2 linked regions of the Homo sapiens genome follow. The protein of the gene in region 1 purifies or fractionates together with the protein of each later gene. This does not show direct contact. Each region holds a gene or a part of one and is shown on either strand. Other genes may lie near its edges.

Evidence for each region.
Region 2: the proteins of SERINC5 (region 1) and IFIH1 purify together in Homo sapiens (affinity purification with western blotting, with the first as the bait; one study listed by BioGRID). This does not show direct contact.

Annotation. Positions count from the first base shown.
Region 1 is NC_000005.10:80,246,028-80,249,851, forward strand, and holds part of SERINC5 (serine incorporator 5), read right to left. Parts: intron 1-3,824.
Region 2 is NC_000002.12:162,280,498-162,284,321, forward strand, and holds part of IFIH1 (interferon-induced helicase C domain-containing protein 1), read right to left. Parts: intron 2,080-3,824; coding exon 1,869-2,079; intron 1,049-1,868; coding exon 831-1,048; intron 1-830.

The sequences.
Region 1 (3,824 bases):
TCCTTAGGGATAAGGCTAGCAAAGCTAAAGAAAAATTACCACTATAGAATCCTATTAGAGCAAACAGTTTCATTACTATGGAAACAAAATACTGCCATTGTTTCTGAGAATGGCAGTGGAGGAGATCAATGAGCATGGAATCAAGAACAAAAGACTGAATTCCTCCCTAGTTGGGGTGAACCACACTCACCAAGGATCAAAGCATTAGGAAATCAGCCCTCCATTAAATTGCTGAGACATAATGTGAGTGCAAAAACAAAACAAAACAAAACAAAAAAATGGAAAAGGCATTCCACAAAGACCTCATGAATTTTGTTTCAAAATGCACTTAGCTAGTTTATAAAAAAATGATACTTAAACACAAGTCTGATTTTCCCATCTTCGCTAGTTATCTTTTCATAAATAAGATTTAAGGGGTTATGCATGTGTTTTTCCTACTTTTGTTTTGACTACACAGTTTTCATGAGAGAGTGAAAATGCTGTCTAATCACTATATACTGTAACCTTACTTCAAAAACCCACAAATTGTTTCAAAATTTACTCTCTGATAAAAACCCACTAAGTCTTTCCACAACAGCTGCTTTCCTTAAACATCAGCAATTTTAATCTCACAAGGCAAACTACGGAAGAAAAGCCAAAAGTAAAATCCTGCTTCCCTTTAAAATTCAAACAGATGTTCTGTGTAATCACACCAACTCAGTATTTGAATTTCCTACTGCCCTATACTGACTCTCAGATTAAGTTCTAAAATGTTTTGAAATATCATTAATATATAAGCTAGAAGAATATGGGGATATTCTCACTGTAAATGTTTTAAAATACATTTTAAGCAGGGCAGCAAAGGTTTACTCTGGGCTACTTGGGATGCCTAATATTTGGGAACAATCACAGTGATTTAGAGAGGTAACTTGATTGATACTGTTCTCAGGATCCAATCATAACCCTAAATTCAACTGCAAACAGCAATATGTAAAATTCACCAACAATGCGGCTTGACTCAGAACACTAAGAAAACACTGGGTCTTTACAATTAGGCAGGTATGGCCACTTAAAGTACTAAAAATAGCTTGGTCAAAGAATTACATCCAATGGCTAGTTCTGTAGACATATCAGCTTATATGAAGACTTCCTTTTTAACATCAAGTTATCACAGATGATCTGGCCACATACTGCTCTGAAATAAAAGTAGACAATGCCATAATTACTGCAGTGCCCTTTCTGAGGCTCTAACTGGTGACTACATTAAAATACCTGGAAAACTGGAAAGTAAAGCTTCCGTGTCTCATAGTCACTCCCAGATACTCAGTATCTGTGGGAAATCTACAGCCTCTATACAGAAAACGAGGGCGGAAAGCAAGCAATGGGGAAGGGGGTGTTACCTTTTATTTAATTAGCACAGAGAGATGAGTCAGAGGCTGCCTTCCACGCCTACAGACTGGCCTCTCCTCAACCGTGCCTACAAAGTCAGACTTGCTGCAGTCCAAAGCTATTTGTCAGCTGGACAGGTCAGCTACAGAGCTGCCCAAGAAAACATATTTGAATGAGCAACCATCAAGCAACTCTCCAACTAAGAGTGCAACCTTCACTCTCCATACTGTTCAAGGTAAGTGACAGAGGATTACCTGACAACCTGAATTTAGCTACACTACACAAAGACACTCCTAAGCCACCCTTCCTGTATCAGCTCACCAGTGAGCTATACAGAGTAGTCCCTCCTTACCCAAGGAGGATGTGTTCCAAGATCCCCAGTGGATGCCTGAAAGTGTGGATAGTACCCAACCCCATATATACTGTGTTTTTTCCTGTATATACATACCTATGAGAAAGTTTTGTTGTTTAAGACAGGGTCTCACTCTGTCACCCAGGCTGGAGTGCAGTGACACAACCATGGCTCACTGCAGCCTCGACCTCCCTGGGCTCAGGTGATCCTCCCACCTCAGCCTCCCAAGTAGCTGGGACTATATAGGCACACACACCACCATGCCCTGGCTAATTTTTGTTTTTTGTAGAGACAGGGTTTCTCCATGTTGCCCAGGCTGGTCTCTAACTCCTGGGCTCAAGTGATCCACCCACCTCAGCCTCTGAAAGTGCTGGGATTACAGGCATGAGCCACCTTGCCTGGCCTCATGATGAAGTTTAATTTCTAAATTAGGCACAGTTAAGAGATTAACAACAATAAGAAATAATAAAATCAAACTCTTATGACACTATGCCAACATCACTACTCTTGCGCTTTGGGGCCACTAAGTCAAATATAGGTGACTTGAACGACTTGAACACAAAGACTGCAATTCTGCGACAGTGGATCTGATAACCGAGATGGCTCCTAAGTGACTAAGGGGTGAGGAGCATAGGTAGACAGCTAGACAGCATGGAGATGCTGGCCAGAATTGATTCACATCCCGGTGGGATGGAGTGAGGTTTCATCACACTATTCAGAACAGGGCATAATTTAAACCTGTGAATTGTTTATTTCTGGAATTTTCCACTTAATATTTTCATACCCCAATAGACCTCAGGTAACTGAAACCACAGAAAGCAAAACTGCAAGTAAAGGGGTACTACCGTATTTAGCCAACATCAACCAAAACACCACCTTGACAGAACAATTATAGGGCACTTTACTGCATTGTGCCCACATCTTTATAAAGATGAACAGGAAAATAAAAGTGCCAGTGCTAGTGATAAGAAACACAGGCCTCAATGTTAATGCAGTGGAAGCAAAGATGGCCACCATCATACAGCAGGAAAACAGTGACTCAACCACCATTTGGACAGACGTTATCTGTGAAAGTAATTGTAAAAAGAAAAGGTCAAAGTTAAAGAAAATGTTGAAAATGACAGAAATATATTGTCAATGATGCCATCTAACAGAGATGAAATTAGGGATTTTTTTTCATTACTTTTGTCCTTTTGGGAATAGAAACACACCCAAACCTCTTAATGCAAAAGCTCATTAAGTGACTTTCACACATTCAACATTAACACCTCTGAAGAAACCATCAGGCCGGGTACGGTGGCTCACGCCTGTAATCCCAGCACTTTGGGAGGCCAAGGCGGGTGGATCACGAGGTCAGGAGATCGAGACCATCCTGACTAACATGGTGAAACCCCGTCTCTACTAAAAATACAAAAAAATTAGCCGGGCGTGGTGATGGGTGCCTGTAGTCCCAGCTACTCGGGAGGCTGAGGCGGGAGAATGGTGTGAACCTGGGAGGCGGAGCTTGCAGTGAGCCGAGATCGCACCACTGCACTCCAGCCTGGGCAACACAGCGAGACTCTGTCTCCAAAAAAAAAAAGAAACCATCAAGTTTGAAGGTAGAAGACTATCTACATATGAATGTAAACCCAGAAAACATTAACAGCTACAATAAGTGGTGGGTGCATGTTAAAAAAAACTTTATCAGTCACCTCATAATTATGCAAAAAGAGTGGGATCAAATACAGCACTTCCAACAAAATCCCAACTTTGCAAAGTAAAATTATAAATATCGGCCGGGCACAGTGGCTCAGTCCTGTAATACCAGCACTTTGGGAGGCTGAGGCGGGCAGATCACCTGAGATCAGGAGTTCAAGACCAGCCTAGCCAACATGGGGAAACCCCATCTCTACTAAAAACACAAAATTAGCTGGGCGTGGTGGCGGGCACCTGTAATCCCAGCTACTCAGGAGACTGAGGCAGGAGAACTGCTTGAACCTGGGAGGCGGAGGTTGCAGTGAGCCAAGATCACGCCATTGCACTCCAGCCTCGGCAACAAGAGCGAAAACTCTGTCTCAAAAATAAAAAAAAATAAAATAATAAATATTAAATATAAGTAACTGAC
Region 2 (3,824 bases), on another chromosome or scaffold:
TACATGAGGCATATCAAAGGTCAACTTGACATCCGTGGATCATACTACCACCTTCTTCTACACATAAAGCAGGCATCTACACATAAAGCTGGGAGCATCCTTAGTCATGTTCCTTGATTATTAGATTGGAATTAGTCCTTAATCCCAGTAATAAATTATATTTTGGAGCCTATAATTGCATCTCTGAATGTTGTGTCTACTCTACATAATTTGTATTGAATTCAACTTAAAGTAAGGGACTTAAAATTCAAATGCAATTGCCTTGGTACCAAAATACTTCTTGGGCTACTCTGATTTACTTAACACTCAAGATTAACAGTAGCACTGTATGTGGTGTTACCATTAGGGGGCAGCTGACAAGCTCATCTTTAAAGATCTTCATATCCCTATTTCCCTTTAATTTGAATTACCTAGATTCCTAGAATAACATATGAAGGACAGAAAATACGCAGTTTTGAAACTCATGGAGTAAGACTTTATTATGTGTGACAACTAGAAACTTTCATAGTTTATGCATATTTCTATATCAGGTAGATCATTAAATTTAACCATAAGAGTAGATGTTCAAAAGAAGGCATTCTATTTATCTCAACTTCCCATTAATTATATCACTCTCCATCATTTTTATGATATGATTTTGTGTTATTGATATTTATTAAGGCATATTAGTATTCTGTAGAAGACTGAGTATATTTATTGTACTAAAGCAAACAGATTTCACTTAACTGATGATCACAGCACTTGAACTCAATCTTATTTAATAAGACCAAGAAGTCCTGGCATTTGTTTTAGCTTTGCTTTCATTGGTTATACATAAAATTATGACTTACTTTTAAAATGTGTTCTTCAGCTTTGGCTTGCTTCGTGGCCCCTCCAACACCAGGTGAAGCTGTTAGTCCCAGTATCTGAGGAAGGGGAATCACTGGTTTGTTTTCTTTCTTGAGTCTATTGTTTTTCAACTTCTGCATCAAATAATGCCTCATGATGTTATTATACACTGCTTCTTTGTTGGTGTGATGACATTCATCAATGATAATGAGGGAAAAGTCTTAAAAGAAAATTCAAAGAGTTCATTTCTCCATATCAGCACACTACAGTGAGAAAATAGCTTTAGACCAGTAATTGAGCTGCCTTGGGGATGCCTTCTCTTGGGCACGACACAAGAGCAGTCCACTTTCAGTTTTTAGGAGGGAAATCTAACTATACTAGCACCTGTACACACAGACGTTCGTATATACTAATCATGAAACTCCCTGTTAGACATTCTCCTTCTTTAATAGATAAGATTCAGAAAGTTTACAGAGCTAAAAAGCGTTAGATGTGGAATTCACACCCTGGCTTATTACAAAACAAATCTCAGGATTTTACTTTTGTTCTTTAATAAAATATTTAATTTTAGGTTGGTGAATTTTATTTTTATTACATCAAGTGAAAAACACACTATTTAAAGAGGGAAAATTTTGCCTTGTTTTAACATTGCATTTAGTTATTATAAATTATTTTTATTTTTTTCCATTCTTTCTCCTACCTTCTCATCCTATACCCCATAAAAGACAAGATTTGTATTTTTATTCTATGGGAAAGGGAAGCAGATCTAACAACATTCAATAGCAAATAAAGGAACTTGTCAGAATAAATGGAAAGTCCAGCGAGTGCTTGCCTTAATAATGGTATTCTTATGCAGAATAAAGTGGTCTAATTAAAAACTTACTTTTTTTGTTTCCTCCAGGAAGTAGAAGGATTTTAATAAAACCATAAGCAATAAAAGACAATTTAAGCCACGAACATTTAAAAAATTAACAAATACAGCCTTTGTTATCATCAATATTACTATTAATTTTTTTAAAAAAATAAACACTTAAACTGACCTGACAATTGAACACCAGCATCTTCTCCATTTTCCAAGTTTAAGAGGGAGTTTTCAAGGATTTGAGCTGTACTGATAATAATATCACAGGACTTGACAACTTCTGGAAATGATATTTTCAGTTGGGTATCACCACTTAATCCAATAACACGATACCATTTCTTCAAAAATGGTTGGAACTCCTTGCGGAAGAGCTGTTCAACTAGCAGTACCTTAAAAAAATGTGAAGATTTTTTAAAAGAGAGAAAGTTAGTCGAAGCCAAAAGAGTGTTGATCAAAGGCCTGTTTGGCATCCAGCATGAAAAGAGGTGTTTACATTATCAGTGAATCAGGCATAACAACGTTCCCATCACTCCTTTCATTCATCTGTCAATAAGCACTGATTATACCCTTGTTAGGTGTGGGCATTTATGTCTGGGACACAAAGATATTTAACATATGGTTGACAACTCTGAGGAACTCTGTCTAGCTGATCATACAGACCAAGACTAAACAAAGCAAGACAAATTATTACAACACAATGTAATAATGCTCACCTAGAAACACACACAAAGTGACAGTTAAGAGAAGAAGCAACTGACGACTCAAAAAAGGGGAATTTGAAGGAATTTGAATCTAGTAAGCCATGAGTCAGTGAAAAGATAAACTGAAGCTAAGGTTGAATAAGAAATACATTTTTAAATTTGTAGAGCAGTGCCAGGTTATAAAGGGCTGCAAACATCAAGCAGAGTATTTTACATGTAGTATAACAGTTTACAGGATCCCTACAAGTTGTACTGTTGAAGTGATTTATTCCTGTTGTTTGTTTTGGATTAGACCAGAAGCAACAGGCCCACAGGACCGGAAGAATCAGGGAACCACAAGTGAGGAGTTAGGGCATTGACTAGGAGAACAGATGTGAAGTGAAGAAATGAGCTGCTGGAATAGCTGTGGTGGCTGAGAAAGAACAAACCCGAAAGTAGACCTGGCAAAAGAAGTGGAAACTTCGGGTCCTTCTCAGCTGATTCTGTATGTTATAACATCTGCTGAAGGTAGCTGGGTTGACACCTCAATGCTACACATTACTAGTCACTCAAAATACCTTCTGGATTAGGAGAAAAAATATAAGGCCATCTTGAAGGTCATATCCTAGGAAGATTTATGCAATGGAAGCCCAGCAGTGTACAATATGGGAAACAGAGAGTTGGCAGGAAGAGTTTCAAGGGCAAGCTTCAAAGAATGCCCATTATATTATTCACTCTCCATAATTCTACCAGAAATGCAATCAGTGGTTACCTTTCTCCTAGTCTGTAGGGTTTGTGTTATTCATCTTTTTACTTGAGGTAAGTCCCACTTAGGTGTTAAATAAGGAATGGCTGATCCCCCTGGCTAAAGGGAACAGCTACCTTATGAAGAACACTGGTTTACTTTATTATTTAGTGGAAATGATGGAGGCTTCCAAAAGTAGGTGTCTGGGGGGCTGGAAGAAGGGGTGGGGAAGAGTTAAAATGAAATCCATAAATTCTAAGGAAGCAAAGTGGACTTAAAATCAGTAATCAAGTTGGTGAGTGAAAGAACATTACCTTACCACAAGGTGGAAAGGGTAGAAAGAGTAAGAAGAGAAACTTTCATTTAGTTCTTTTTTTTTTTCAAAGTAAAGTCTCTCTAATCTACCTGTTACAAACACGCTTGAGAAGTTTAGAAAATGCAGACTCCTAAGTCCCACTCAAGAATTACTGAATCTAGGGACAATCTCTGGGGGGCAGAGGCTTGAAACCTTCACTTTAATGACATTTAAGCCTTTAAAATTTGAGAGTCACAGCTCTGCTCTTCTCTCTCTCTTCCACAAAGCCGTTCTTGAATCATTTTCTAGAAGTATTCTTTCCATTTCATTTATGCAAGACAGAAGGCTTCTGAGGAAAAGAATGGAAATTAAGTTTAGTGGAAAGAGACAGCATGATGCAGAGGGAAGAAAGCC